Linked DNA regions of Homo sapiens: all the other regions are linked to region 1. The links come from fine-mapping of genetic effects on gene expression. A gene starts in region 1. Each other region holds a variant in brackets. All regions are shown on one strand. Distances are between the middles of the regions.

Region 1 (4,583 bases):
GACCAGCCTGACCAACATGGAAAAACCCTGTCTCTACTAAAAATATAAAATTAGCTGGGCGTGGTGGCGCATGCCTGTAATCCCAGCTACTCGGGAGGCTGAAGCAGGAGAATCGCTTGAACCCGGGAGGCGGAGGTTGCAGTGAGTCGAGATTGTGCCATTGCACTCCAGCCTGGGCAACACGAGCAAAACTCTGTCTAAAAAAAAGAAAAAGAAAGAAAGAAAGTGTGCTCCCAGGAGTCGAACCCTGAGTACTCTTCCTGTATTAGGGCCTGGATATGAAAGGTGAAGCTGGACACTACCTCTGTCCCAGTCAGGCCCATCCTGTACTCTGAACTGTAAATGGGCATGATGGCCAGAGACCTACTTTCCACATTTCACATCCCTCCCCTCAATCCTTACACTGAATGTTTACGGAGCAGCTAGTAAACACTGCCAGGTGCTGAAGATAAAATTAAGAGTGAGAGTGGATCCCTGCCTGCCAACTTCTCAGGTGGCGGAGCTCATAGCACAGGAGAGGCCAAAAGCTCACATTCCTCCTATCTCTTTTTTTCACTGCTTATCCTTTCACCACTGTGATCTTCCCCGTGTCCCTGCTTGGGGCTTGGCCCTGTTTCTCTGCTCTTTCCCAGCCTCCTACTTCCATGGATGATCATTCAATTCTATCCTAAAGGACCGAATCGAATTTCTTTAAAAATCTATTCAGCCAGTTTTATTACATCAGTCATTGTTTCACAATCGAGACTGATCCATGGTCAGAGATAAAATACACTGAACAATTTTTTTTCTTTTTTTTTTTTCTTTTTGAGATGGTGTTTTGCTCTTATTGCCCAGGCTGGAGCACAATGGCGTGATCTCGGCTCAGGCAACCTCTGCCTCCCAGGTTCAAGTGATTCTCCTGCCTCAGCCTCCCAAGTAGCTGGGATTACAGGCGCCCACCACCACACCTGGCTAATTTTGTATTTTTTGGAAAGACAGGGTTTCTCCATGTTGGTCAGCCTGGTCTTAACTCCTGACCTCAGGTGGTCTGCCCCCCTCAGCCTCCCAAAGTGCTGGGATTACAGGCATGAGCCACCACGCCCAACCTTACATTTAACAATTTGAAGAGTATTTTTTGACTCTTTGTGCAGCGACAACTTCTGATTTTCATCTCAGCATCTTCACTCTGGGATGATTTTACTCGCCAAACATTAATGAAGCCTCTACTCTGGGCCAGAACTTTTCTAGGCATTAGGGATAGACCAGATAGCAAAAGCAGTGTTTGACTTATATATTCTAAAATGGAAGCAGATGATGAGCAAAGTACTGTATATACATACGACATGGTGGCCGGTAGCACAATAAATGTTATGTAGATAAATGAAGCAGAGTAAAGGGTTACAGATTGGGGGCAGAGAACAGGGTGCTCTGATAGGTCCGGTGGTCAGAAAAGTTCTCTCTGAAAGCAGTAGGAGGAGTCAGGCAGCCAACTGGGATGACAGCCTTGCAAGGCAGAAGGAATAGAAGATGCAAAGGCTATGAAGCCAGAACTGCTTGATGGGTGTGAGAATCAGCAAGGAGGACAGTGATTAGAGCACAGCAGAAACTGGGAAGAGGCACAGGATAGAAGGAGGGGCCTTGTAGGCCTTGGCTGCAACTTTGCTCTTTATTCTCAGGTGAAACTGTTGGAGGATTTTGAGCAGGAGAGTGAAGGGATCTTTTTTTTTTTCTTTTGAAACGGAGTCTCGCTCTGTAGCCCAGGCTGGAGTGCAGTGGCGCTATCTCGGCTCACTGCAACCTCTGCCTCCAGGGTTCAAGCAATTCCCCTGCCTCAGCCTCCCGAGTAGCTGGGATTACGGGCATGCGCCACCACGCCCAGCTAATTTTTTGTATTTTTAGTAGAGACGGGTTTCACCCTGTTAGCCAGGATGGTCTCGATCTCCTGACCTCGTGATCCGCCCGCCTCGGCCTCCCAAAGTGCTGGGATTACAGGCGTGAGCCACCGCGCCCGGCCCTAATTTTTGTTTTAAAGGATTCCCGTGGCTACTCTATGGAGAATATACTATAGGAAGAAAAGAGTGAAAGCTAAGTGATTAGTTGCAGCAGTCTGGGTGAGAAAGAAAGGCTAGGAATCAGGGTGGCAGTGGCAGAAATGACAAGACGTGATTGAATTGGCAATATATTTGAAAGCAGAGCCAACAATTCATGTTGGCTCTAGAATCAGGGATCCATTCAAAGTAGAAAAACAAAATTATTTAAAAACACAAACATCTTAACAGTTCATTTTTAAGTACAGAATAATACCCAGTGGCCAACGGCACTAATAGCAAGACAAGAAATAGAGAATCAAAGATATGTGGGATGCCTGCAATTGACTATTGGATGCTGATTTTGCAGAACTTTTTTATATCTTGTTACTTAGGTTTTGTGTGTGTGTGTGTGTGTGTGTGTGTGTGTGTGTGTATACCATATTATTTCCCTACTAAAGAAGTCACTGTTTAAATACTACCTTTTTCATGAAAGGCAGGACCCCCTGAGGGTCTTCATGATTCTAAAAGGAAGTGTGACTCCCACAGGGCAGCCAGCAGTGTCAATACTTCTCTGAGTGAGATTTAAATAAGAAAGAAAATGTGTTAATAAAACATCAAGCCAAGAGAATCTAGTGGCCACAGACCCACGAAGGAACACTGAGTTGTGCAAGCTACCTAGGTAGAAGGGTGGCTAATCCTTTCAGTTTGAACAAATTTACCTTCTCTGAGACCGGACTCAGCGCTCGCCAAGTCCTCTGCTAACGCAGGCCCCACAACTAGGAGCTAGGGGAGCCTATCCCAGCCTTTAACTGCCCGCCGAGAGACCTACCACAAGCCGGTGGTTCAGCGACCCAGCGCATCCTTTTCCTGGCCACGCCCTCTTTGTCTACACCCTTCCCATCCCGGCCACGCCCCCACGCCGCCGCGGCCCCCCCACTCCCAGCCTAGCCACGCCCCTCCCCCGTCGCGCCGGCGCACCGTCCGTCCGAATGGCCTCGTGGGCGGAGCTTGCGTAGCCTCCCGGACCCCGGCGCACACCGCCCCCCGCCCCCCGCCCCTGGCCACCAAGCGCCTCCGTGGACACGCACTTCCTGCGAGGGCTCCGTGCGCACCTTGGCCGAGCCGAACCGAGCCGAGTCCTGTCCTTCCAGGCCGTTCGCAATGGTGGATGAGTTGGTGCTGCTGCTGCACGCGCTCCTGATGCGGCACCGCGCCCTGAGCATCGAGAACAGCCAGCTCATGGAACAGCTGCGGCTGCTGGTGTGCGAGAGGGCCAGCCTGCTGCGCCAGGTACGTCCGCCGAGCTGCCCGGTGCCCTTCCCCGAAACGTTTAATGGCGAGAGCTCCCGGCTCCCCGAGTTTATCGTGCAGACGGCGTCTTACATGCTCGTGAACGAGAACCGATTCTGCAACGACGCCATGAAGGTGGCATTCCTAATCAGCCTCCTCACCGGGGAAGCCGAGGAGTGGGTGGTGCCCTACATCGAGATGGATAGCCCCATCCTAGGTGATTACCGGGCCTTCCTCGATGAGATGAAACAGTGCTTTGGCTGGGATGACGACGAAGACGACGACGACGAAGAAGAGGAGGATGATTATTAGGCCCTCGACCCTCGGGCCTCGGGGGGGAGGGCCCTGCACGCCGCCACCCCCTCCCCGCAGCCCTCACCCCGCCAGGAGCCACTGCTCTCCCCCTTGCCCTCCGGTCCCCTTACCTACCCGCGCCCGTCTGCTCTCTCTCTTCATTTCTCCGTAGTGCTTGTCTTTGTTCCAGGAATAGCGCTCCAGTTACCTGCTGCTGGGGTCGGGGCTGGAGCCTCACTCACTCGGAAGTGCTTGGAAGTGTCATCTACCCTGGCCATCCCCGGGATCCCTCCCCTGCTAATCTGAACTGTGTCCTGAACCCCAGCTATTGGCCAGGCCCCTGTTACAAACTGCGCAGACCACCCGTAGCCCTGCTGCTGCCACCTGCCCTGCTGCCAGGCTTACATCTTCCCAGAGAACTATGCTGCCACTTCACATCCACTCACCACATCCCACCTACAGACTACCACCTTTCGAGATCAGGACCAACCTGGAAAATGCCAGAGTTGGCTATGCCTTTTCAGACATTGATTTGGACAGCTCACCAACCCCTGAAGGGGCCGTTCAGCCTGGTTAGTTTTCTACCTACTCCGAGTGTCCTCCCCTGCCCCACCAGATTGCTGCAGGGGCGCGGTGTGCCTGGCAGCCAAATTGTTGACACTTCTTTTTTCCTATGCACTGGTTTTACACAGCTGTCATTTTTCTTTCAAAATTGCAGCAGTCCCACAGATGTGTGCATTTGGACAAATAGTACTTAAAAACAAAACAAACAAGCACTCAGCCCAGCTCCTCAATACTACCTGGAAAAAGCATTGGCATTATTTTCAATAAATATCAAGCACTAAAAAAAGAAATGATTGTCTTTTAATGGTTAAGTGCTATCACTGGCCTCTACCACTGTCACTCTGACTACCATTATTCCCGTGGAAATCAGGGAATACAACCAATCCTAGTATTCCCCGCTGTCATCTCCAGGCTGCTGGGGACAGC
Region 2 (4,583 bases), 270 kb before region 1:
CAACAGTGTAAAAGTGTTCCCATTTCTCCACATCCTTTCCAGCACCTGTTGTTTCCTGACATTTTAATGATTGCCATTCTAACTGGTGTGAGATGGTATCTCATTGTGTTTTGATTTGCATTTCTCTGATGGCCAGTGATGATGAGCATTTTTTCATGTGTCTGTTGGCTGCATAAATGTCTTCTTTTGAGAAGTGTCTTCACATCCTTGGCCCACTTTTCGATGGGGTTGTTTGATTTTTTTCTTGTAAATTTGTTTAAGTTCTTTGTAGATTCTGGATATTAGCCCTTTGTCAGATGGGTAGATTGCAAAAATTTTCACCCGTTCTGTAGGTTGCCTGTTCACTCTGATGGTAGTTTCTTTTGCTGTGCAGAAGCTCTTTAGTTTAATTAGATCTCATTTGTCTATTTTGGCTTTTGTTGCCATTGCTTTTGGTGTTTTAGTCATGAAGTCCTTGCCCATGCCTATGTCCTCAATGGTATTGCTTAGGTTTTCTTCTAGGGTTTTTATGGTTTTAAGTCTAACATTTAAGTCTTCAATCCATCTTGAATTAATTTTTGTATAAGGTGTAAGGAAGGGATCCAGTTTCAGCTTTCTACATATGGCTAGCCATTTTTCCCAGCACCATTTATTAAATAGGGAATCCTTTCCCCATTTCTTGTTTTTGTCAGGTTTGTCAAAGATCAGATGGTTGTAGATATGTGGTATTATTTCTGAGGGCTCTGTTCTGTTCCATTGGTCTATATCTCTGTTTTGGTACCAGTACCATGCTGTTGTGGTTACTGTAGCCCTGTAGTATAGTTTCAAGTCAGGTAGCGTGGTGCCTCCAGCTTTGTTCTTTTGCTTAGGATTGTCTTGCCAATGCGGGCTCTTTTTTGGTTCTGTATGAACTTTAAAGTAGTTTTTTCCAATTCTGTGAAGAAAGTCATTGGTAGCATGATGAGGATGGCATTGAGTCTATAAATTACCTTGGAGCAGTATGGCCATTTTCACGATATTGATTCTTCCTATCCATGAGCATGAAATGTTCTTCTATTTATTTGTGTCCTCTTTTATTTCGTTGAGCAGTGGTTTGTAGTTCTCCTTGAAGAGGTCCTTCACATCCCCTGTAAGCTGGATTCCTAGGTATTTTATTCTCTTTGAAGCAATTGTGAATGGGAGTTCACTCATGATTTGGCTCTCTGTTTGTCTGTTATTGGTGTATAGGGATGCTTGTGATTTTTCCACATTGATTTTGTATCCTGAGACTTTGCTGAAGTTGCTTATCAGCTTAAGGAGATTTTGGGCTGACATGATGGGGTTTTCTAAATATACAATCATGTCATCTGCAAACAGGGACAATTTGACTTCCTCTTTTCCTAATTGAATAACCTTTATTTCTTTCTCCTGCCTGATTGCCCTGGCCAGAGCTTCCAGCACTATGTTGAACAGGAATGGTGAGAGAGGGCATCCCTGTCTTGTGCCAGTTTTCAAAGGGAATGCTTCCAGTTTTTGCCCATTTAGTATGATATTGGCTCTGGGTTTGTCATAAATAGCTCTTATTATTTTGAGATACGTCCCATCAATACCTAGTTTATTGAGAGTTTGTAGCCTGAAGGGCTGCTGAATTTTGTCAAAGGCCTTTTCTGCATCTATTGAGATAATCATGTGGTTTTTGTCTTTGGTTCTGTTTATATGCTGGATTAC[A/G]TTTATTGATTTGCATATGTTTAACCAGCCTTGCATCCCAGGGATGAAGCCCACTTGATCTTAGTGGATAAGCTTTTTGATGTGCTGCTGGATTCGGTTTGCCAGTATTTTATTGAGGATTTTTGCATCTATGTTCCTCAGGAATATTGGTCTAAAATTCTTTTTTTTGTTGTTGTGTCTCTGCCAGGCTTTGGTATCAGGATGATGCTGGCCTCGTAAAATGAGTTAGGGAGGATTCCCTCTTTTTCTATTGATTGGAATAGTTTCAGAAGGAATGGTACAAGTTCCTCTTTGTACCTCTGGTAGAATTCAGTTGTGAATCCTTCTGGTCCTGGACTTTATTTGGTTGGTAGGCTATTAATTGTTGCCTCAATTTCAGAGCCTGTTATTCATCTATTCAGTGATTCAGCTTCTTCCTGGTTTAGTCTTGGTAAGGTGTATGTGTCAAGGAATTTATCCATTTCTTCTAGATTTTCTAATTTATTTGCATAGAGGTGTTTATAGTATTATCTGATGGTAGTTCGTATCTCTGTGGGATCAGTGGTGATATCCCCTTTATCATTTTTTATTGCATCTATTTGATTCTTCTCTCTTTTCTTCTTTATTAGTCTTGCTAGTGGTCTATCAATTGTGTTGATCTTTTCAAAAAACCAGCTCCTGGACTCATTGATTTTTTTAAGGGTTTTTTGTGTCTCTGTCTCCTTCAGTTCTGCTCTGATCTTAGTTATTTCTTGCCATCTGCTAGCTTTTGAATGTGTTTGTTCTTGCTTCTCTAGTTCTTTTAATTGTGATGTTAGGGTGTCCATTTTAGATCTTTCCTGCTTTCTCTTGTGGGCATTTAGTGCTATAAATTTCCCTCTACACACTGCTTTAAATGTGTCCCAGAGATTCTGGTATGTTGTATCTTTGTTCTCATTGGTTTCAAAGAACATCTTTATTTCTGCCTTCATTTCGTTATTTACCCAGTAGTCATTCAGGAGCAGGTTGTTCAGTTTCCATGTAGTTGTGCGGTTTTGAGTGAGTTTCTGAATCCTGAGTTCTAGTTTGATTGCACTGTGGTCTGAGAGACAGTTTCTTATAATTTCTGTTCTTTTACATTTGCTGAGGAGTGTTTTACTTCCAACTATGTGGTCAATTTTGGAATAGGTGTGGTGTCGTGCTGAGAAGAATGTACTTTCTGTTGATTTGGGGTGGACAGTTCTGTAGATGTCTATTAGGTCTGCTTGGTGCAGAGCTGAGTTCAATTCCTGGGTATCCTTGTTGACTTTCTGTCTCATTGATCTGTCTAATGTTGACAGTGCAGTGTTAAAGTCTCCCATTATTATTGTGTGGGAGTCTAAGTCTCTTTGTAGGTCACTCAGGACTTGCCTTATGAATCTGGGTGCTCCTGTATTGGGTGCATATACATTTAGGATAGTTAGCTCCTCTTATTGAATTGATCCCTTTACCACTATGTAATGGCCTTCTTTGTCTCTTTTGATCTTTGTTGGTTTAAAGTCTGTTTTATCAGAAACTAGGATTGCAACCCCTGCTTTTTTTTTTTGTTTTCCATTTGCTTGGTAGATCTTCCTCCATCCCTTTATTTTGAGCCTATGTGTGTCTCTGCATGTGAGATGGGTCTCCTGAATACAGCACACTGATGGGTCTTGATTCTTTATCCAATTTGCCAGTCTGTGTCTTTTAATTGCGGCATTTAGCCCATTTACATTTAAGGTTAATATTGTTATGTGTGAATTTGGTCCGTCATTATGATGTTAGCTGGTTATTTTGCTCGTTAGTTGATGCAGTTTCTTCCTAGCATCGATGGTCTTTACAATTTGGCATGTTTTTGCAGTGGCTGGTACCGGTTGTTCCTTTCCATGTTTAGTGCTTCCTTCAGGAGCTCTTGTAAGGCAGGCCTGGTGGTAACACAATCTCTCAGCATTTGCTTGTCTGCAAAGGATTTCATTTCTCCTTCACCTATGAAGCTTAGTTTGGCTGGATATGAAATTCTGGATTGAAAATTCTTTTCTTTAAGGATGTTGACTATTAGCCCCCACTCTCTTCTGGCTTGTAGAGTTTCTGCCAAGAGATCCACTGTTCATGCTGTTAGTCTGATGGGCTTCCCTTTGTGGGTAACCTCACCTTTCTCTCTTGCTGCCCTTAACATTTTTTCCTTCATTTCAACCTCGGTGAATCTCACAATTATGTATCTTGGGGTTGCTCTTCTCGAGGAGTATCTTTGTGGTGTTCTCTGTATTTACTGAATTTGATTTTTGGCCTGCCTTGCTAGGTTGGGGAAGTTCTCCTGGATAATATCCTGAAGAGTGTTTTCCAACTTGGTTCCATTCTCCCTGTCACTTTCAGGTACAACAATCAAATGCAGATTTGGTCTTTTCACATAGTCCCATATTTCTTGGAGGCTTTGTTCGTTTCTTTTTACTCTTTTTTTCTCTAAACTTCTCTTCTGACTTCATTTCATTCATTTGATCTTCAATCATTGATATCCTTTCTTCCAGTTGATTGAATCAGCTACTGAAGCTTGTGCGTGCGTCACGTAGTTCTCGTGCCATGGTTTTCAGCTCCATCAGGTCATTTAAGGTCTTCTCTATGCTGTTTATTCTAGTTAGCAATTCTTCTAATCTATTTTCAAGGTTTTTAGCTTCCCTGCGATGGGTTCGAATATCCTCCTTTAGCTCAGAGAAGTTTGTTATTACTGATCTTCTGAAGCCTACTTCTGTCAACTCTTCAAAGTCATTCTCCATCCAGCTTTGTTCCATTAGTAGTGAGGAGTTGCGATCCTTTGGAGGAGAAGAAGTGCTCTGGTTTTTAGAACTTTCAGCTTTTCTGCTCGGTTTCTCCCCATCTTTGTGGTTTTATCTAACTTTGGTCTTTGATGATGGTGACCTACAGATGGG
Region 3 (4,583 bases), 290 kb before region 1:
GTGCCCACTCCACGCCCAGCTAATTTTTGCATTTTTACTGGAGATGAGGTTTCACCATGTTGGCCAGGCTGGTCTCAAACTTTTGACCTCAGGTGATCCACCCGCCTTGGCCTCCCAAAGTGCTGGGATTATAGGCGTGAGCCACCACGCCCAGCCAGGCATACCATTTTCAAACTGCAGAAAATCAAAGATAAGAAAAGAGTCTTGAAACAAGCCATCAGAAACAAAAGACACCTATATAGGATCAAAGACAAGAATTACACTTGACTTCTCAGAAACCAGGCAAGCAAGAAAAAGGTGGAGTGAAATATTTAAAGTTTTGGTAGAAAAACAACTTCACCAACCTAGAATTTTGAATCCTATAAAATTATCCTTCACAAGTGAAGGAGAAATAGAGACTTTCTTGAATAAACAAAAATTGAGAGAATTTATTGCCAGAAGACTAGCTTTGAAAGAAATGTTAAAAGTTATTCAGAGAGAAGGAAAATAATATAGATTAGACACTTGGATCTACATAAAGAAATTAGAGAAAGAATAAGTAAACTAAAAGCTTTTATTTTTCTTATTTGTAATTGATGTAACATATAATGGTTTGTTTAAAAAAGAATAGCAACAATGTATTCAATATATATACTTCTGTATTTATATGCTTATATATAAGTAAAATAAATGATAGCAATGTTGCAAAGGACAGGATGGAGGAATTCAGATTATTTTGTTATTTTAAATTACTTTCATTACCCATGAAGTGGTATAGTGTTATTTGAAAGTGGACCTGGATTGGTTTTAAACATATATTGCAACTTTAGGGAAACCACCAAGAAAAGATTAAGAAGGAATATGACTGATATATTAATAAAGGAGAGAAAATGGAATCATATGAATATTTAGTTATAACTACAAAAGGCAGAAAAAGTGTGGGAGACAAAAATAGAAACAGAACATGGGCAACAAATAGAAAACAGTTGCAAATGTGTTCAATGTTACCCACCTGTATCAATAATCACTTAAACATCAATGGTCTAAATATCGCAATTAAAAGACAGATATTGTCATAGTGTATCAAAAAACAAAACCCAGCCATATGCTTTTTACAAGAAACTCACATTAAATATAAAGACACTTGCAGGTTAAAAGTAAACAGATATAGAAAGATATGCCAGCCAGGTGCGGTGGCTCATGCCTGTAATCCCAGCACTTTGGGAGGCCGAGGCGGGCAGATCACCTGAGGTCAGGAGTTTGAGACCAGTCTGGCCAACATGGTGAAACCCTGTCTCTACTAAAAATACAAAAAACATTAGCTGTGCATGGTGGCGGGCACCTGTAATCCCATCTACTCGGGAGGCTGAGGCAGGAGAATCACTTGAACCCAGGAGGCGGAGGTTGCAGTGAGCTGAGAATGCGCCATTGCACTCCAGCCTGGGCGACAAGAGTGAAACTCTATCTCAAAAAATAATAATAATAAAAAAAATAAAACTAAAAATAAAGATATGCCATGCTACCACTAATCAAAAGAAAGTGGGACTATCTCTATTAATTTCAGACAGAGCAGACCACCAGGCAAGGTAAGGTATCATGGATAAATTGAATAATTACATAATGATAACGGAGTCAGTCATCCAAGAAGACATAACAATCTGCTATGGTCTGAACGTTTGTGTCCCTACCCCACCCTCCCCCTAACACACAATTTAAATGTTGTAATCCTAATCCCCAAAAAGAGGGTATTAGGAAGTGTGGCCTTTGATGGGTGATTAGGTCAGGAGGACTGAGGCTTCATCAATGGGATTAGCAGCCTTATAAGAAGACCCAATGAGATTCCTTCCCCCTTCCACCACTTGAGGACACAGCTGAAAGTCAGGGGCCAACAAACCAGGAAGAGGCCCTCTCCGGACACTGAATTTATCAGCACCTTGATCTTGGACTTCCCAGTCTCCAGGAGTATGAAATTAATGCCTGCTTATAAACCATCCAATGTATGCTTTTGTTATAGCAGCCTGAATGGACAAAGAGACAATCCTTAATGTGTATGCACCTACAAACAGAGCATCAGAATGCATGATTCAACAACTGATAAAGTTACAAGGAGAAACAGATAAATCCAATGTTATAGTCAGAGATATTTTTTCTTTTCTTTAAAATAGGAATAATACTAGTGCCTACTCAACAGAATTTGTGTGAAGATTCAATGAGTTAATGGGTGTAAGGGCCTTAGAATAATACCTGACACATTCTAAAAGCCTGAAAAATGCCGGCCATTATTGTTACTATTACTATTATTATTATAGTCTACACGGAAC[C/G]ATTATTATTTTTTATGTTTGACACACAAATCACTATACTAATCTGTCACCTTTGCTTTTCTTCTGTAAATCTAGTAAAAAGGGAGGAAGAAAGAGGAGTACAGAGATGTTATAAAACACAGATCACAGAGAGAAGCCATTTATTTTTCCACCGCTACCCTTGACATGACTGCTGCCGAACTGAAGGAAGAAAATTGCGGCGGGAAGAGATCAATAAAAATTATTCTTTTCCACCTTCTTTCCCTGCTGTTGGAATTCAACCTTTAGGCTAACATTATGGCAAGATTTAGGATGCAGAGGAAATGGGATTCTTCCCTAGTACCTCACTCATGTTGCCCTTTGTCCAGTCTTGGCAGAAATATTGCAGAGTAGTAGTTGAGGTGCCACAGTAATTCATGAGGAAATTAGAAAGGTGATATGGTTTGGCTCTGTGTTGCCACCCAAATCCCATGACAAACTGTAATTCACAGAGTTGGAGGAGGGGCCAGGTAGAAGGTGATTTAATCATGGGAGCCAACTTCCTTTTTGCTGTCCTTGTGATAGTGAGTGAGTTCTCACAGGATCTGGTTGTTGTAAAAGTGTGTAGCACCTCCCCCTGTCTCTTATTTTCCTGGCGGCCATGTGAAGACACGCCTCCTTCCTCTTCACCTTCTGCCATGATTGTAAGTTTCCTGAGGCCTCGCCAGCTATGCCTCGTGTACCGCTTGTAGAACTGTGCCTGAAACCCCTTTTCATTATACACTACCCAGTCTCAGGTATGTTGTTATACTAGCGCAAGAACTAACTAATACAGAGGGTAAACATAAATTTGAAGTAAGAAAGATGAAAAAAAGAGGGGTGCAATATATATTTGTTTATAATAAAGACAGTATCTTGTTACTTTTAAGGGAAACAAAATTCACACCTGGAGGAAGCTTTTGTTATTGTTATTGTCGTTGTTGTTGTTCTCTAATTTTTGTGCATGAAGGTTCATTTTGTAGACAGCAGTGCCCTTGTGATAAGAAGTAGGGAGGAGCTAACACTTACTGAGCACCTACTATGGGAAAGATGCCTAAGCTTAGCCATCCCCTGAACAAACCAGCAAGGTAAATTTTGTCCATTTCATAGATGATAAAACTGAAGTGCATCCAGGTTTAAGTCAATTGCTGAAATATGCATAGTAAGTAAATTGCGTATCTGGGATTCAAATCCAAACCTGTCTGATTTCCAAACTCTGATGTTCCCATACTACCTACATTTAAAAAAAATGTGTGCCCCAAAGAGAAATATAGAGTTCCCCTAGAAAGCCAGTGGGTGATATAAATTGCACTTCTTCATACACGATCAGCCATAGAATATGAGTTCTGGTCCCTGGTGCCTGGAGACTTCTGTACTTCTCAGAGCTCATCTCCATTCAGAACTCTTCAGGAATGTCAGGTTGACTCCTCTGAGACCATACAGATTGATACAGCAAAAAGAACATGGAGTTGGAATCAGACAGTCCTGAATTCCAGTCATTGTTTCATAATTTCCTTGTCCACAACTTTGGGCAAGTTTCTTGGGCTCTCCGAGCTTCAATCCCCTCCTTATAATTCTCTTTTCTAACTTCCTTCTTCCTAATCTCATGTGGGATACATAAGAGGCATCTTCTTCTTATCTTTGGTCAGTTCTCTTGTGTGAGTTAAATATTGCCACAATAATTATGTGTAACAATCCTCCAAATTCTATGGCTTATAGTTGTCTATTATTTTCATCAATCTGTTAATTGGCTGATGTCTCTGCTTCAGTGGTACAGCAGCTGGGGATATTTATCTCCAGATCTGTTTTTCTTGGGCTCAGATTGAAAAGTGAACAGCTATTGCAGGGATATTCTTCTCATGGTCATTGCAGAGGCATAGGAGGGCAAGCAGAAACATGTGAATCCTCTTAAGTTATTGAATCAGAACTGGCATACTGTTATTTATGCCCTATTCTATTGACCAATGCAATTCACAAGGCCAAGCCCCAAGTTAAGGGAGACAATGTACATTTTCTGCTCATCAATGGCGTGGCCAAAGTGTAGTTGCAGGGGAGGGTGAAGAATTGAGGTTGACAAGTCAATCCCTCTTAGAAACTACTACCACTAAGTTTCTAAGTAGTTTCCTTTATTGTTCTCAGGCTTACTATTCTATTTTACCAGGAACAGAATTCTTCAATTTCCTGACTTCTTACATAAAGCTTTCTGTATCCACATTTACCAACGATTTTCTCTTTTCTTTCAGTCCCGGATATGCCATTCAACCTGTCTTTTGAATTGTATTCCCT
Region 4 (4,583 bases), 340 kb before region 1:
AGGAACTAACATGACTCCGCCAAGGAATTTATAACTGGCCAAGTCCCTATGTAAAGACGTCAGGAACAGGTAAATATACTGCGGTAGCCTCTGTAACTATTCACTAAATGTTCCAGTGTTGCTCCTTTAGTCTTCTTCCCTGTAGAAGGATACATCCCACTCCAAATGAAATCAGGAGAGCCCACGGGACTCACTTGGGCTAGTGAAATGTGGAAGTGATATGTGTCTTTTCCGGGCAGAAGGTTTAAGAGAGTGGTTCACTTTGTCTCCTTTCTCTCTGCCATGAAGACTGACAGTATTCCAGAAAGAAGATACTCCCTCAGCTTGTTTTCTGAAGTAAAGATGACATAGCATAGCAGCTGGGCGCGGTGGTTCACGCCTGTAATCCCAGCACTTTGGGTGGCTGAGGCGGGCGGATCACCTGAGGTCAGGAGTTCAAAACCAGCCTGACCAACTTGGTGAAACCCTGTCTGTATTAAAAATACAGAAATTAGCCAGGCATGGTGGTGGGCGTCTGTAATCCCAGCTACTTGGGAGGCTGAGGCAGGAGAATCACTTTAACTACAGCTACTTTAACCTCAGCTACTTGGGAGGCAGAGGTTGTAGTGACCCTAGATCGCACTACTGCACTCCAGCCTGGGCGACAGAACGAGACTTCGTCTCAAAAAAATGACATAGCACCGAGAAATAGCCAATCCACAGTAGACTTGTAGCATGAGTGAAAAGTAGATATTTATAATTACATGTATCCAAAATGTAGGATACATTTGTTACTCAAGCAAAACCTTGTGAATCTTAAATTTAATTTTATTCAGCATCTACTTAAATGTTATCTCATCTAGTCCTCAAATCAACCTTATTAGGCAAATAACTATTCTAGTTGGTGCTTTCATTTGCGAACAACAGACACCGAGTCTGGTAATATAAGCAGAAAAACAATTCGTTAGAGAGATAACACATTGTTCTTAGAGTCCATGAGAAGAGCAGAGAGTCAGGTGAAGAATATATGGCAATAGTCAAGGGAGGAAGAGCTCACCCAGAATCACCCCAGAGAAGCAGTTTTCTTAGGGTCCCACTGGAAGCACTGTCACTTCTCAATACTGTCACACTACTGGACTCTAGCCTCTGCCACAAACACTGCAAATAAGTGTTGACTTTCTCTACATCTTAGTATACCTCCTAAAGTGTCAGAGCTCCTGGCAGAAGCGTCCACATGGCTATGCTCGTCCCCTGGGTCTATGCCAACAACTTGAAGTTAAGAATATCTGCCCCTCATTCAGTTTCCAAGTAAAAGGTAAGGCCCTGACTCACATTTCTCTCTGGATTACCCCCAATGTTATTTAGATACTATGAAGACAAAAGTGATTGATATAGTATTTTCAGAAAAAAAAGTTGAGAAAATTGAACCTTGGAGAATTTAAGTCACCAATTCAAAATCACACACCAAGAATGACTTGTATCAGTCAGAATGCTTACAGCTGCAAGTAACCAAAATCCACAACTCAAGCAATGAGGCGTATGTTATCACACACAAAAGGTATTTCGAGTGAAGTGAAGGCTTCTGGGTGGACTGGATCAACTCTTTAATGATGTAATTAGTTCATGTAATTTCTTAGCCCTCCTGTCCACATTTTCAGCTTCGTATTAATAATGCTAGTACCCCTCATGGTTATATGATACCTGCAAGAGCCATCAAAGCTATGCACGTCTTTGTTCATTTTCTACCAGAGAAATTCTATCACCCTATTTATACCTTCTTTCTCGCTGAGCCAAATTACATCACATCTTCATCCCTAGACATTGCCACATACTGATTAGCTTAAGCTTGGCTTCCTGAAATAATTGCTGGCAAGAGGAAAGGCATTATTATGATTGATTAGTTTATCATTTATTCTGAAGCTGAAGATAAGGGCACCTTTTTTTCAATTACATGAGCTTCATGAAGGAAGGCAAATGCCTTAAGAAAATTACGGTTCTCTTAAGAAGAAAGAAGGGGGAAATGGATAATCTGTAGGCAAACAACAACCATGTTCTGCGTCCTTCTAATACATACATCTTTAAAAGTGTCCACACCTACATGAAATTCCTTCAAGTGTCCCTAAAGAGAGGCTCCCTAAAGTTTCTTCTGGGTAATGCACTCAACTCAAGTCCATAATCTCTAAGTGATGCATCAGTGATCCAAGACTAAATAGTATTATACTAACCCCAAACACATTCATGTACCCATGATGCAGGAAAAACAAGGCAACATTAATAAAAGTGATTATTTTAGACCATCCTGGCCAACATGGTGAAACCCCGTCTCTACTAGAAACACAAAAATTAGCTGTGCATGACGGCACCCACCTGTAGTTCCAGCTACTCGGGAGGCTGAGGCAGGAGAATCGCTTGAACCCGGGAGGCAGAGGATGCAGTGAGCCAAGATCGCGCCAATGCACTCCAGCCTGGTGACAAGAGTGAGACTCTGTCTCAATAAAAAAAAAAAAGTTATTATTTTTGGAAAACGACAGGAGGGAAAATAAAGTGATAATGCTTTACAATACAATATAATCTGT[T/A]AGACAGCAACACAGAGGATGTTCTGTCCTAGAAGTGAATTGAGTTTCCTGATCACCCAAGCTGGCTTCCCCTGGTTCTGTTCTGGGAAAGTATCCCTCATCAGTATTTCCCCAAAGTCAGAGGCAGGATAATCATTTTCCAGATTATTCCTCATAAGAGGCTTCACTGCTTTAGTAGTCTGCTTTGTATTGGTATAAGCATACAGACAAAGGGATCAAGGTTGTTGGCTAGGATTTTTGTTTCTTGGGCAGTAAAGCACACATAAATTAACAGCCTATTTACTTTTAATCCATTCTACTGGCGAGGAACTCCAGCCAGAGATCTTGTCAAACCATGGGCTTGGAATCTGACAATATCACGTTCCTTGCTAGAGCTTTCAAAGTGCTACATTCAGCTTCTGTTTAGCTATTAGACGACATTTATGAAGACAGGAAGAAGAGCTACCATACTCCAACATCCAAAATTTCCTCTACTAATACATTCTACATAGGAACATGATGATTCCCAGTGTAAAATGCCTAGTAGTTTAACAAAATGCTTTTTAATCGTACGAAGCAACATGTGCCAAATATTTACAATTCATTTCATTCATTTAATGATAACCTATTGAACACTTAGAGCCTAAAGTAGCTATTGGTACAGTAAGGCTACATAACACATAAGTATAATATCTCAGAGGTAGACAAAAATACTCATTTTTCTCATCCATGGGTCTTCAAAGTCAATGAGGGCAGAATAAATTCAGGCTGAAAACTGAATATAGGTGTGCTTCACTATGTGTCTCATTCCGGTATATAGGTTGAAGCAGTCGCAACTAGACAGGGCATCTTTTTTTTTTTCTCACAGCAATGGCAGTAGACGAGACAAGCCCAGCATTAAAGGTACTTCAAAGGTACATTTCAACTCTCTTCTCAGATCATGATAATCTCCTCTAGAAACACTTTCAAAGACATACCCAGAAGTAATGTTTAATTTGAGATCTCGGTACCAGGTGACCCAATCAACTTGACATATAAAATTAACCATTACATCATCCAACTATCATAAGGCCATGGCAGGGAAATGTATGTATAATACCAGTACTACAAGTGACTGAATAATTATGACAATTTAATCTACCACATCTGCTGCATCCCAAGAGTTGTTACAAACACTGAGGATAGAGCAGTGCTCAAAACAGGCAAAGCCACAACGCTGCTGGGTTTTAACTTGCAGTTGTGGAAACATGAAAACAATGAGCACAACCCCAGGTGTATTTATAAAATGTTACGCAATGTTAAAAATGTTCATAGTAGACCAGGTGCAATGGCTGACGCTTGTAATCCCAGCACTTTGGGAGGCCGAGGCGGGTGGAACACCTGAGGTCAGGAAGTCGAGACCAGCCTGAACGACATGGAGAAACCCCATCTCTACTTAAAATACAAAATTAGCCGGGCATGGTGGCGCATGCCTGTGATCCCAGCTACTCCGGAGGCTGAGGCAGGAGAATCACTTGAACCCGGGAGCCGCAGGTTGCAGTGAGCCGATATCGCACCACTGCCCTCCAGCCTGGGCAACAGGAGCGAAACTCCATCTCAAAAAAAAAAAAATGTTAATGGTAGAATCGATGGTGGGTAGACAGTGAAACGTTTGAAAAAGCGACGCAGGTTAAGGGGTTTATAAAGTGGATGTGTTTTTGACATTTTGGATGGGGTGGTCAGGGAAGCATCTATGAAGAGCTTACATTTGAGCAGAGATCTGACAGATGGGAGGGATGGATCCAAACTGAAATCTGGGAGGAAAGATTTCCAAGCAGTTGGTAGAGCAAGCTGAAAGGGCTTTAAGATGAAACATGACCTGCTGTGTTTTAGGACAGCAAGAAAGCCAGCACAGCTTAGAAGACTGGTGGGGGATGAGCCCAGAGCGTTAAGCAGTTGTGTGATCACACAGGGCCTTGCGGCAATAAAAAGAACTTTGAAGTTCATTTAAAATAGTATGGGTAATGTGACAATGTTTTAATATAAATAGATGTGAACATTTTAATTTAT
Region 5 (4,583 bases), 970 kb after region 1:
ATGCAATGTTTCTCTTTATTAATGATTTTCTCTCAAATTCCACTTTGATATATTATTATCTCACTAATCCTTTTTTGGTTAGAATTCACATAGCATTTATTTGTTCTATTTCATTAACTTCAATGTTCTGTTGGTTTGGTTTTAGGTGTATATCATACAAACAGCATATAATTGGACTTTGTTTCATAATTTGGTAATCTTTCCCTCTATATAGCTGAATTTAATCTATTCACATTTATAATGATTGCTGACATTTTTAGAAATTTTCTCTCATTTTATGTTTTTTGTATAGCATCATTTTCTGTTTCTTTTTTTCTCTTGACTTTCAATTTGATTTATAAAGTTTTCTATATTTTTTCTCTACATATTTTGAAGCTATAGATAATATTTCTAGTTTTTACTGGTTATTTTTAATATTTTAAGGATATATAAAACTGTACTAATTTTTTCTCTGCAATACTCTTCACCACTTCTGTCATAAGGATATATAAATTTTTTCTAACACAACCTAAAATTATTATAATTTTCATTCACCTACTGAATATGATATAGAACTTAGCACATTATAACCTCAAACTAAATACTCTAATATTTTTCATTTTATCTTGAGCATTAATTTTATATTTTCTTAAACATCAAAAAGTAATTCTTACATTCAATTAATTAAATATATAACTATATAATCTATTTTTGGTTTTTTTAACTTTTAGTTTCAGGGGTACATGTGGATGTTTGTTATATGGATAAATTACATGTTGCAGGGGTTTGGTGTACAGATTATTTCATCCCCCAGGTAATAAACACGGTACCTGACAGGTAGTTTTTTTATTCTCACCCTCCTCCTACGCTTCACCCTCAAGTAGGCCCTGGTGTCTATTATTCCCTTCTTTGCACTGATTGATACTCAATACTGATTATTAGGTGTCCATGTTGTATTAGTCCGTTCTTGCACTGCTATAAAGAAATGCCTGAGACTAAGTAATCCATTTAAAAAAAAAAAAAAAAAGGTTTAATTGGCTCATAGTTCCACAGGATGTATAGGCAGTATGGCTGGGGAGGCCTCAGGAAACTTTCAATCATGGTGGAAGGTGAAGGGGAAGCAAGCAGGTCTTACATGGCCAGAGCAGGAGGAAGAGAGCGAAGGGGAAGGTGCTACACACTTTTAAACAATCAGATCTCGTGAGAACTCAGTCACTATCATGAGAACAGCAAAAGAGAAATCTGCCCCCATGATCCAATCACCTCACACCAGGCCCCTCCTCCAACATTCAAATTACAAATCAACATGAGATTTGGGCGGGGACACAGATCTAAACCAGATCACATGTGTACTCAATGTGTAGCTCCCACTTATAAGTGAGAACATGTGGTGTTTGATTTTCTGTTCCTGCATTAGTTCACTTAGGATAATGTCTTCCAAATCCATCTATGTTGCTACAAAGGATATTATCTCATTCTTTTTTATAGCTGCATGGTATTTCATGGTGTATATGTACCACATTTTCTTTATCCAGTCTACCTTTGATGGGCATTTAGGTTGATTCCATGTCTATGCTGTTTTAACCTGTTCTTGTATTCTAAACTTGCCCTTTCTTCTTTTTAAGTATATATTTTAAGAGTTCCTTTAGTGACCCTCTCTGACCTGTAAAATAGCAGGCTGAGCATGTGTAAAAATACTTTGATCTACCCTCACTCTTGAAATTATTTTTATCTAGCACTTTAAGATAACACTATTTTTTACTGATGATAAATATACTGTGAGTCTAATTGATTCTTTCATAGGTAATCAATGTTTTCTGGTAGTTTTAAAGATAGTATCTTAATCCTTAATGTTCTGCAGTTTTATTATGATGTATCTAGCTGTATATTTCCATTTATCCTGCTCAAATCTCATGTATACTACAGAACTGAGAACTCAAGCATTCAATTCTGGATGTTTTTTCAGTTATCATATCAGCAAACATTACTTCTCTGCGATATTCTTCAC[C/T]ACTTCTGTCATTCCTACAGAATATTTGTTGAAGCCTCTCAATCTATAGCTCATATGTCATTATTCTGTTTTTAAAAAATCATTCTCTTTGCTATATTTAGAATTTCTCAGTACTCTGTCTTGCAATTTAATATGTTCTCTCTGACTATATGCAACCCAAAGTTTATGTTCTTTTGAATTTTTTATTTAAATGACTTTTTTTCATGTCCAGGATTTCTGATTGGTTCTTTTATATTCATGTGGTCTCATTTTTCATTTCTTTTTGCTTGTTTATTTCATAATTTTCTATTTTCAATGAAAGTTGTTCATTTACCTCTTTCAGCATCCTAAACATATTTTTTAAATGACAGATCTTTTCATAAAATCATTTCATTCTGAATGAATTCATATTCTGATCGTTTATTTCCTTGGTGACCTCACTTAAGTGTAGATATTTTTCACGCGTTTTGAAATTTTGGTGTAGAAGCTCATTTTGAATAGAATATAATTTTATTTTTCTTCCACATGTTCTATTCTCCATCCTTCCTTTTTATTGTCATTTCATGTTGCTCCTACATAGTTTCTAGGACAGTTGTCCAGAACAGGTCTTATAACAGATTTTCAAAACCCCTGTTACATAGTGATATTGAAGATATAGTAGAGCCAATGGCAGCTTGGGCCAGTTCCTCACAAGAAAAGTCTATCTTTGGTCTTCTATTCCCCCACCTCCCAGGCCAATTGCTTCCTATAATTTTCTAGCCCTATCAATGAGTGGCAATAGCAGTTAAATTCTTCTTATCTCTAGACTCATATATACAACTACCTACCTAACTTCTCCACTTGGGTATCTAATAGGCATCTCAAACTCTATGTGCCTAAAGTTGAACTCTTGGTTTTCAGTCTCGCCCTAAACTCTCCCTCAGTGTTCCTCATCTAAATAAATGGCACCACCATATACCCCGTTGGTCAGGCCAAAAACCTTCAAGTCATCCTTAAATTTCTTTCCGTCACTATCCTATATCCAACCCATCAGCCTGAAGTGTCAGTTCATTCTTCGCAAGATATCTAGAATCCAGCACTTCTTACCATTTCCATCACTACTTCCCTGACCCAAGATACCATTATCTTTTCATTACCATTCCAAAAGCCTCCTTACTGGTCTTCATGCTTCTGCTCTTGGCCCCTTTTAATCAACATTCTACAGGACATCCAGAGAACTCACTTCATGATATAAGTCAGACTGTATCACTCTACTGCTCAAAACCCTCCAATGACATCCATTCACATTCAGAATAATCTAAATTACTGTCATGGCCCACAAGCCCCTACCTGATCTGGTTTCTCCTTATTTCTTCAAATCATCTCCTACCACTTTTTACTAATTCCACAATGTCTGGTGGAGATTAAACATTATCATGTGTGTAGAATGTCTCCCATAGGGTTTCACACATGTACATTGCTCAATATATGTATACTTATTATCATAGTTGTATAATGAAGAAGTTAAGAATGGGGCCTGGCCTAGAATGATGGGATTTAGGCAGAGAACAATATGAGTAATCATGAAAAGGAAAAAAAAATATGGTGATGGAATGCTTAGAAGGGCTAAGAAGAGAAGCTCAAAGTGAAGGAAGTGAGATGCTGTGCCTTGCTGCCATTACTTTTAATTCCCTCCTGCCCACCATACACATATAACACCACAACCACTGCCCACTTTTTATTCAATTCAGTACTCATCTGAGTCATGTGGGAAAAGTAACCATCTTCTCAACCTTTTCATATTAGAATTAACCACTAGCGAGCAAAAGCTTGCAGATTTTGATACATCAATTAAAAAGCTAGGTCTTTCTGCATTCCTGTAAGCACCATTACAACCAACACCCATACCAATCTGTGTCCTTCAGTTGGAGTTGTTTCAAGTAAGAGTTAAAATGTAATATTTCAAGACAAATTCCTTACGGTAGATAGATATGCCTCCCCTCTTATAGGTCTTGCTTTGGCAGAGCTGCTGAGCACTAGTTCTTTACTAACAACTCACCGGCATTCTCAAAATCTTGCTGATTTTGGTATATAATTTACGAATCTGTAAATGCTTCAGAAGGGAGTTCTCTTGATTCTACTAAAAATAAGCATAAAGTGATTCTTACTCATTGATGCTATTAATTCCTACATAGTGATCTGTCACCAGTTCTCACAAAGGAAGTTCTACACAGAGAGCCATTAAAGCAAAATCTATTAGTATCATCTGATGGCTCAAGTATTTTGTATTATAAATTGGTCACATGAATAAAACAAAAGATTAAACTCTTCTTTAAAAAACAGGTTTTCACTAAAGAACTTACCCATGTAAACAAATACCACCTGCTCCCCCAAAACCCATGGAAATTAAAAAAATAAAAATTAAAACAGGTTTTCAAAATATTCTTCTCAATATTATTAGAATTTTATATCACCCTAGAGATATAAGCACCAGAGTTAAAATAGCTCCAATATGTTTTGATTTGAAAAAAAATACAATTACGCAAAGTTAACTTAAGGGGAAATCCATGCAAGCATGTTAAGAGAGGATTACTGCCTAATGTTGTGATAAAGCAGGTAGGTACCAAAATTCCTGACC
Region 6 (4,583 bases), 64 kb after region 1:
TGTTGTTGTGTCATGTGTTCTACCAAAGTCAGTTAAGTCAAGTTGTTTGATATTGTTTTTCAAGTCTGTATATTTTACTGATTTTTTGTCTGCATCTTTTATCATTTATTAAAAGAAGAATGTTGGCATATTTGACTATAATTGTGAATTTGCCCATTTCTCCTTTAAGTTTTGCTATTTTATTCAATGTTGACTTTGAAGCAGTGTTATTTTGGATACCTAAATATTAAATATTTAAATTCTTATATTTCCTTGGTCAATTCTCCCTTTATCAGTTTACAGTGTCCCTCATTTTGCATGTGATATTCTTGCCTCTGAAAGCTACCGGATCATATTATACAGGTATTCTAGCTTTGTTTTGAAATAATGTTTCCTCTTTGCATTTAATGTGGAAATTACTCTTCTAATGTTTTCAATGTTACAGGTAGCTTTAATTTGCTAAGGTGGCCATAATAAAATACCACAAACTGAGTGGCTTATACATCATGTATTTGCTCACAGCTCTGGAGGCTGTAAGTTTATTATCAAGGTGTTGACAGGGTCGGTTTCTTCGGAGGCCTCTCAGAATCTACCATGTCTCTTGCCTAGCTAAATCAGTGATTTTCTGGCGGACACTGGCATTTCTTGGCTTTCAGAAGCATCATTCCAATCTCTGCCTTTGTTTTTATGTGACATTCTCACTGGGTCTATGTCCAAATTTCCCCTTTTTATTAAAAGGCCAGTAGTATTGGATTAAGTCTTGCCCTAATTACTTCATCTTAGCTCATTACTTCTACAAGAACCTTGTATTAAAATAATGTGACATTCTACAGCACTGGGGGTTGAAACTTCAACATATTAATTTGGGGGAACAAAATTCAACCTGTAGTGTTGGTATTTTCTTCTCAGTGTCTAATCTGCTATATATCCCATTCAGTTTATTTTTCATTTCAGACCTGTAATTTATATCCATAGAAGTTTGATTTTGGTATGTTTTATATCTTTCATATGTTTACTTAACATGTTCAACCTTTCCTCTTATTTATTGAACATATATAATATAGTTAGAATACCTGTAGCTTTTTTTTTTTTTTTTTTTGAGATGGAGTCTTGCTTTGTTGCCGAGGCTGGAGTGCAGTGGCACTACCTTGGCTCACTGAAACCCCCTCCTGGGTTCAAGCGATTCTCCTGCCTCAGCCTCTCGAGTAGCTGGGACTACAGGCGCCTGCCACCACGCCCGGCTAATGTTTTGTGTTTTTAGTAGGGACGGGGTTTCACCGTGTTAGCCCGGATGGTCTCGATCTCCTGACCTCGTGATCTGCCCGCCTCAGCCTCCCAAAGTGCTGGGATTACAGGCATGAGCCACTGCACCCAGCCGTCTGTAGCCGTTTTAATGTTCTTGTCTACTCATTCTATAGGTGCCATTTTCTGGTCTCTTTCTATTGAATGGCTTTTCTGCTCTTATTTTCTTTCCTTCATGCGTGATTGGTAACTTTTTATTTGATGTCAGACAATGTGGATTTTACCTTTTTGGTGGTGTTTTTCTTCTCCTAATATTATTTTCACACTTAAATCTGAGATGCTTTAAATTTACTTGGAAAAAAAAAACATTGATTCTTTCAAGGCTTGTTTGTAAACTTCATTAGACAGAACCAGACTAGCTATTAATCTAGGACTATTTTTCTTCCACTACTGTGGCGATACCCTCTGACGAACCTACCTAATATCATGTGAAATACAAGGCTTTTCACTCTGACTTGTGGGAAAAAGAAATGTTTGAGCTCTAAGAATTGTTTTTTTCTGCTGTTTACAGATAGTTGCTTCTCCAGCTTCAGTTAGTTTCCTCACATTCATGCACTGATTCATGCTCAACTAAAGCTGAGAAGGACCTTCAACAAATCGCTGCAGTTATCTTATTTTTTGTGCAGCTTTCTTTTCTCTTGTATTCTTCCCTGAAAATTGTAGCTGTATTTCCCTTTTTGGACTCCTAGCTCTGTCTTCTCAACTTAGGGAGGCCACTGGATTCCATTTAGGTTCTCCGTTTCTTTTTATTTTATTTATTTACTTATTTGTTTATTTTGAGATGGAGTCTTGCTCTGTCGCCCAGGCTGGAGTGCAGTGGCCAGATCTCAGCTCACTGCAACCTCCGTCTCCAGGGTTCAAGCAATTCTCCTGCCTCAGCCTCCTGAGTAGCTGGGACTACAGGCGTGTGCCCCCACACCTGGCTAATTTTTGGATTTTTAGGGGAGACGG[G/A]GTTTCACCGTGTTAGCCAGGATTGTCTCGCTCTCCTGACCTTGTGATCCCCCCACCTTGGCCTCCCAAAATGCTATGGGATTACAGGTGTGAGCCACCGCGGCCGGCCTGAGTTCTCCCTTTCTATGATGTAGCCTGAAGTCTCCTTTCAGACAGTAAGCCAGGACAATCGTAAGGGTTCACTTTGTTTTCCCTCTGTAAGGAATTATTTTCTCACACTACCTAATTTCTAACGCTTAAAAAACATTTATATATATATATATGTATATAGTCCAGTGTTTTTAGTTGTTTCTGCCAGGAAGATAACTCCATTACAAGTTACCCCATCTCAGCTAGACAGTTCCTAAGAGAATACATTATTGGCCGGGCATGGTGGCTCATGCCTGTAATCCCAGCACTTTGGGAGGCCAAGGCAGGTGGATCGCCTGAGGTCAGGAGTTCGAGACCAGCCTGATCAACATGGAGAAACCCCGTCTCTACTAAAAATACAAAATTAGCTGGGCGTGGTGACACATGCCCGTAATCCCAGCTACTCAGGAGGCTGAGGGAGGAGAATCACTTGAACTCGGGAGGCAGAGGTTGTGGTGAGCTGAGATCACGCCATTGCACTCCAGCCTGGGCAACAAGAGTGAAACTCCGTCTCGAAAAAAAAAAAAAAGAATATATTATTATATAACTTTTTATTATGAAAATAATATTTTCTTATAAAAATTTCAAGCAGTGCAGATGTATATACAGAAAAACTTGCATTTCTACCATTCTCTCCACCCTCTATTCTCCCAAAATTCAACTGAATTACTGGTCCTCAAAGGAAACAGCTTGCAATTGGTATGCTCACTTACAGATAATTTTATATTCATTTAAATATATATACAAAGATTCATAATATAGTCATATACATATATGCAAATATTAAAAATACATAATTATATATTTTTTAAACAGGGTCTTGCTCTGTCGCCCAGGCTGCAGTGCAGTGGCATATTCTCAGCTCTCTGCAGCCTCAACCTCCCAGGCTCAAGCAATTCTCCCACCTCAGCCTCCTGAGTAGCTGGGACTACAGGCATGAGTCACCACACCTGGCTCTTTTTTTTTTTTTTTTTTTTTTTTTTTTTGTAGAGAAGAGTTCTCACTGTGTTGCCCTGGCTGGTCTCGAATTCCTGGACTCAGGCAATCCTCCTGCCTCAGCCTCCCAAAACGTTGGGATTGCAGGCATGAGCTGCTGCGTTTGGCCTACATAAATATTTTGACATAAATGAGATATTAAGTACTTTTGTAAATTAATTTTCTTGTCTAATTCTGTATCTTTGTTTTTCCTCTATATTTGCCATACATATCTATGTCAATATTTTAATTGTCTGCATATAACTTCATAGTATGGATACATCATTTTTAAATGTAGGTATTTCTCTATTGATGTACAAATGTTTTTCACCAGTTTTTCTGTTTAACAAATGTTACAATGAACATTTTTGAATCATATGTTTTCGTGCACATGTGTAGCATTTCTAAAAGGAAAATTCTTAAAAATTTAATGAGCATTTTAAAGTTTGCTAGAAATTGCCAAAATATCCTGCAAAGTACTTGTACTTTGTTCTAACAGTATTAGGATTTCCTATTCCCTCATGATTTTTGTTGTCAATCCAATGGAAGAAAATTGCTTCTTTGTTTTAATTTATATTTACTTTACGAATAGTAAAGTTGAATATCTTTTGTTATCTATTTGTAGTTATTAATCTGTGAATTGTTGCCATATTTTTCTATTGGGTTGTTTGATTTTTTATTTATAGAAAAAATTTGTATAGTCATTTGTTTGTTATACATATCACAAGTATTTTCTCCTAATCTCTTCTTTATATTTTAACTTTGTATAAGAAATAATTTGCCGTATAGAAATAGTGCTGGAAAACATGTCTTTTGAGAAAGAACATACCTTGTTCTATTTTTTTCCGCTTTTGAAAATTCCATCTCATCCACCAGCTGCAGGACAAATCACTGAACTAAATGTTTAACTGGTTTTGAGAAAGAGAAAAACAGCTTCTGACATTCACAAGCTATGCCCAGTTGTTGCTAGGAGCTGGCTTGGCACTCACAGCTAGGCCTTGGTATTACTCTATCAGGAACATCAGCATTAAATGAGGCCGCTGTGTGACCATGACGGATGAAGGCGAAAACAAGACCGCTCTGCAATCATGTCTGAACACAGACAGAACATGGACATTGTGCAAGTCACAAGAATGACCAGTTATCTCACTATTCTGAATAATATAAGTTGCTGGGTTTTTTTCTTTTACCAATTACAAGTCTACCCTTGCTTTAGACTGCCCTCACAATAGATAAGGTGTATTAAG
Region 7 (4,583 bases), 230 kb before region 1:
TTTACATTCCCTGAAATATTTCTAATGTAGCCATATTTAGAAGCTTCCACAATCCTGCTCATAAAATACATAGTGGAGTTTTATAGTCTCTAAGAGAGCGTATATCCTCATGCTAGATAGTTTAGGTGTCCAAGTCATAGCATTTTGGTGACTCTTAGTCATTTCCTTGTGAGTCAACCATCTCAGGCTGCTTACATGCTTTTATGTTCTTCCAACTTCCATGACCAGAGGATGGATTAATTTCCTGTAAATATATACTTATACACATGTCCACTCGTTCCAAAGTGACATCAAATACCCCTTATCAATAGCAGTGTCAGAGCAAGCTTTCATTAAAGCACAGGAGAAGAGCTACTTTAAGTGTTGCTGAGAACAGGATCATAGGTCTATGAAATAGAGAGAGAGAGAGAAAGAGAGACTGCTGAGGCAACCTCTGTTTGCTCCCTGAGGTCACTCCTCTGCAGGTGTGGGAGAGCTGCACTTACACAATATTGCATACCACTGGATTGAGGATGGTAGCTAATGTTTATGGAACAAATAAATCTCTCAGTAGCATAAGTAGAAAATGACTCATGAAAATATAATCTGCTTCAGTGCTGTGTTTTCTGCTGGAAAAAGGATGAAAGCAAGTTATTACAGGCAGTTTTCCAAAGGAATCTCACCAATAATCTGTTTACCTTAATGTACAAAAAAATGTTGTTTTTTGTATGTCTCAATCCTTGTCCCAGCTTCCTTATTAGCTGTGTGACCTTAGGCAAGTTTCCCTTGGTTCCCTTATCTTTAAAACAGAGATACTAACAGTACTTATTTTATAGTCTCATTGTAAAGATTAAGTGAAATAAAGTATTTTTAAATGGTTTAGCACAGCACTGAGGTGATAGTAAGTGCATAGTAAATGTTATTGTTTTTAGTTGTCTACAACTTTGGGTGACTCATGAGCTCCTGGAGAGTGGAAAATGCTTTTGATGTATTATTCATCCTTGTATTTGACTGACATTGTTTTAGTGAGGTAAGATAAGCAATAGGTTTGGAGTCCTGGCTTTGCCATTTACTATCTCTGTGCCTTTGAGAGAGTTCCGCTCTTCTTCTCTTCCCATCCTTGCCTTAACCAGTGAGCTTCAGTAATAATTGTAATTACATTACATGTTTGAGATAGGAATTCAATCAGATAAAGTACATGGTGCTATTAGAGACCTCAATAAATTATAGCTGTTATTTATTTATGTGTGCTCCTCTAATGGTAGATATTATTATTATATGCATTACATTATTAAGTACAGAAGTTATTTTCCATTCTGCTGCTTTAGGTTAATTTATCATCAATAGTTTCCATGTTTTTTCTCATTGTAATAATTTTATTGAAAAATGTCTTAGTCCATTCCTGCTGCTATAACAAAATACCTTAGTCCAAGCAATTTATAAATAATAGAAACTTATACCTCACAGTTATAGAGATTGAGAAATCTAAGATCAAAGCACTAGCAGATTCATTGTCTGGTAAGGGCTCACTCTCTGTTTCCACGATGGTGCTTTGTTGCTGAATCCTCTGGAGGGAATAAACACTGTGTCCTCACATGGTGGATGGGACAAAAGGGAAAAAAAGGACTAGGGTGCCCCTTTCAACATATTTTATAAGATCACTTATCCTATTCATGAACACTCATGACTTAATCACTTTCCCAACGGCTCCACCTCTTAATATTATCACAGTGGGTATAAAGTTCCAACATATAAATTTTGGAAGGACACTGCTATGGTCTAAATGTATCCATCCAAATTTATACGTTGGAAATTAAATCCCCAGTGCAACAGTTTTGGTAGGTGGGGCCTTTTGGGACGTATTTAGGTCTTGATAACTCTGCTCCGATGAATGGATTAATACTGTGACAAAAGGGCTTGATTGAGGGGAGTTTGTCTTTTTTTGCCTTTCTGCCTTCTGCTCTGTGAGGACACACTGTTTTTCCCCTCCTGAGGACACACTATCAAGGTGTTGTCTTGGAAGCAGGGACTGAACACTTACTGGACACTAGATAATTGTGCCTTGATCTTGGACTTAACAGCCTCCAGAACTGTAAGAAATGCATTTATGTTCTTTATAAACTACCAAGTATCAGGTATTCTGTTATGGCCACATAAGTTACTTAGACACATACATTCAAATCATAGAAAAGGGCTTTATAATTCTGCCCTTCTTATATTGTTCAGGAGGGTTAGCATGTAGGGATCTAAGAAAATTGAACCTTATGAAAGCAGGAATTGTATCTGTTTTGTTTACTCATATATCCTATAAGTATTTGTGCCAGCCACCCAACAGGTGATCATAAAGTATTTTTGAATGGACATATAAACATAACAAAGAATTTTAGTTTAAGCATACTACTGGATTACAGTGTTAGAAAACACAGTGATAACTGAATAGAACACTATAATTAAAAGGGGAGGAAAAAATTTTAATTGTCTAATTTATTACCATTATTATATAGGAGTCAAGAAAATCTGCATCAATTCATAGGCCTGAGACCTATACAAGTTTTATCAACAAAATAAGAAGATTCAGTTGAAGATTC[G/A]AAGATAGTTGACTACATGCAGCCATATGGTATAGCTGCCACTGAGGGATCAAGATGACTGATGCACTCCTAACAGATCTTCAGAAGGAAGGCACTGAAGTGGATGGAGGGAAGGCACAGAAGATGGGCTGAAAAGAGAGAGGAAGCTGGGAACTCTGCACGGGGCTACTGTACCCTGGGACTCATTCCCGGTCCCGAATGGTACAAATGAGTGAGTTGAACTGGCAAGGAGCAACCTGGGCCTCTGGAATCCTGGCAGGAGGAAATCCCTAGACCACCATGGACACTTGAGTTGGCAGGGAGAGCTTCTTCCAGAAGTGCTAAGGTGAGTACACCAGCCTATGCGGAGCCCAGAGGGTTTGGTTTGGGAGTGTCTGTAGTGGAGCACAGCCACGGATGCCCATCCTTTCAGCCTTGACTTGCTCCCATAGGAGACTTTAGCCTTAGGGGAGCTGTCAGACCTGAACTCTGCAGGGCAGTCTTGCCCATCAAATGGGGCTGGTCCAACCTGAGCACTCCTTGGTCTGCTGGCCTCTCTCAGGACCCCATCCTGGTTGTACTTGCTTGCAATGCAGCGTTGGGTGCCCCAAGGCACCGCATCATAGCTCCTGCACTAGTGGACTGTGTCTGATGGATGGAAGCTTCGGTGGGGCAGCCCCCATGGCCAGGCACCATCCTGCCTACTCCCTCCCACCACTGTAGCTTCCCCAGGCCTATGGCTGCCCTTCATATCTGTCAGCACGTGTGTCTGTGAGTGGATTTTGCCTTACCTGCCCTGCCAGTGAACGTTTGTATGCACAACCTGCCCTGCTTCTGCTGCTGGTGGGAGTGCACTCTGCCCCCACTCCCCTGCCTTATCACCATTTCATTCAGAGTTTTGACAGGCACAGATGCTGCTAGCCCTGCCCCCATCAGCGCCCTGCCCCTGTGCCAACACTGCTGCTGGAGTGAAAGTAGGCATGCAGAACAGCAAGCCCTCCACAACCCTGAGCAGCCAGAGGGTGCACACAGACCTGTGCCCACCAATGCTCTGCCCCTGTGCTAACACCACAAGTGTGACAGCATGCACAACCACCAACAGGCCCCCCTCCTACTCCCCCTATACCAGCTGTGCGGCCTCTGCCACTGCTGTGAATGCCCACAAGAAGATAGGCACCCTGGCACCCACTAACACCCTGCTGCAGCCAGTTAGCATGCACCCGTCCATGTTGTTGCTTACATGCACCCCTTCATACTGTCACTGCCACTGCTGCTCGGATGTGCAAATGAGAAAAGATCCCGCTACCATTGCCCTAAGAAACGCTTTGGCTGGCACCAACCATCAGAGTGTAGTGACCACTGGTCCAAAAGCATTTTGGTCCCCTAGTGCAGTGGGTTGATAACCTCAAGAAGCCAGAGAATAACACTGGGGTCTGATACAAGTCCCTCAGAGTTGGAGCACGCAGTACAAAAGTTGAGAACTGAGCCTTGGCCCCTAAAATTTTCCAAAAATGAAGATAGTTAACTGAACCCACCTGTGATAGTTAAAACTGAGTGTCAATTTGATTGGATTGAAGGATACAAAATATTGATCCTGGATGCATCTGTGAGGGTGTTGCCAAAGGAGATTAACATTTGAGTTAATGGGCTGGGAAAGGTAGATCCACCCTTAATCTGGGAGGGCACAATCTAATCAACTGTCAGTGTGGCTAGAATATAAGCAGGCAGAAAAATGTGAAAAGAGAGACTGGCTTAGCTTCCCAGCCTACATCTTTCTCTGGTGTGGATGCTTCTTGCCCTCGAACATCAGACTCCAAGTTCTTCAGTTTTGGAACTCAGACTGGCTCTCCTTGCTCCTCAGTCTGCAAATGGCCTATTATGGGACCTTGATTGTGTGAGTTAATATTTAATAAACTCCCCTTTATATACATATATATATATATATATATATACATATATATATATATACATATATATATATACATATATATATATACATATATATATACACATATATATATACATATATATACACAC

Direction of the effects. Alleles are on the strand shown, and positions count from the first base shown. SD is a standard deviation of normalised expression in the study named. Not every link is listed here.
As copies of A replace G in region 6, the expression in cerebellar hemisphere of the gene that starts at base 3,063 in region 1 goes up (moderate effect, 0.58 SD a copy in GTEx).

The links. PIP is the estimated chance that this variant, and not a neighbour inherited with it, causes the effect.
Region 2: its variant is fine-mapped to the expression of LDOC1 in whole blood (TOPMed, PIP 0.99).
Region 3: its variant is fine-mapped to the expression of LDOC1 in whole blood (TOPMed, PIP above 0.99).
Region 4: its variant is fine-mapped to the expression of LDOC1 in esophagus muscle (GTEx, PIP 0.98).
Region 5: its variant is fine-mapped to the expression of LDOC1 in ileum (GTEx, PIP 0.97).
Region 6: its variant is fine-mapped to the expression of LDOC1 in cerebellar hemisphere (GTEx, PIP 0.98).
Region 7: its variant is fine-mapped to the expression of LDOC1 in whole blood (TOPMed, PIP 0.97). The same link has a PIP of 0.9 or more in blood mononuclear cells.

What each region holds. Positions count from the first base shown.
Region 1 is chrX:141,175,609-141,180,191 of GRCh38, reverse strand. It overlaps LDOC1 (LDOC1 regulator of NFKB signaling), which reads left to right and starts at 3,063. Exons shown (of 1, transcript NM_012317.4): 1 at 3,063-4,583. The coding sequence starts at 3,171. The coding sequence ends at 3,611. RefSeq lists an enhancer at 3,499-3,998.
Region 2 is chrX:141,448,875-141,453,457 of GRCh38, reverse strand. No RefSeq gene overlaps it. Among named protein-coding and RNA genes, the nearest start is that of SPANXA2-OT1, 52 kb to the left of the region's middle. The variant A/G (reference allele first, on the strand shown) is at 1,687.
Region 3 is chrX:141,460,831-141,465,413 of GRCh38, reverse strand. No RefSeq gene overlaps it. Among named protein-coding and RNA genes, the nearest start is that of SPANXA2-OT1, 40 kb to the left of the region's middle. The variant C/G (reference allele first, on the strand shown) is at 2,301.
Region 4 is chrX:141,512,593-141,517,175 of GRCh38, reverse strand. SPANXA2-OT1 (SPANXA2 overlapping transcript 1) reads right to left here. Exons shown (of 4, transcript NR_037183.2): 2 at 2,347-2,464. Among named protein-coding and RNA genes, the nearest start is that of SPANXA2-OT1, 12 kb to the right of the region's middle. The variant T/A (reference allele first, on the strand shown) is at 2,556.
Region 5 is chrX:140,206,983-140,211,565 of GRCh38, reverse strand. No RefSeq gene overlaps it. Among named protein-coding and RNA genes, the nearest start is that of HAPSTR2, 120 kb to the right of the region's middle. The variant C/T (reference allele first, on the strand shown) is at 1,988.
Region 6 is chrX:141,111,182-141,115,764 of GRCh38, reverse strand. No RefSeq gene overlaps it. Among named protein-coding and RNA genes, the nearest start is that of LDOC1, 64 kb to the left of the region's middle. The variant G/A (reference allele first, on the strand shown) is at 2,233.
Region 7 is chrX:141,401,998-141,406,580 of GRCh38, reverse strand. No RefSeq gene overlaps it. Among named protein-coding and RNA genes, the nearest start is that of SPANXA2-OT1, 99 kb to the left of the region's middle. The variant G/A (reference allele first, on the strand shown) is at 2,568.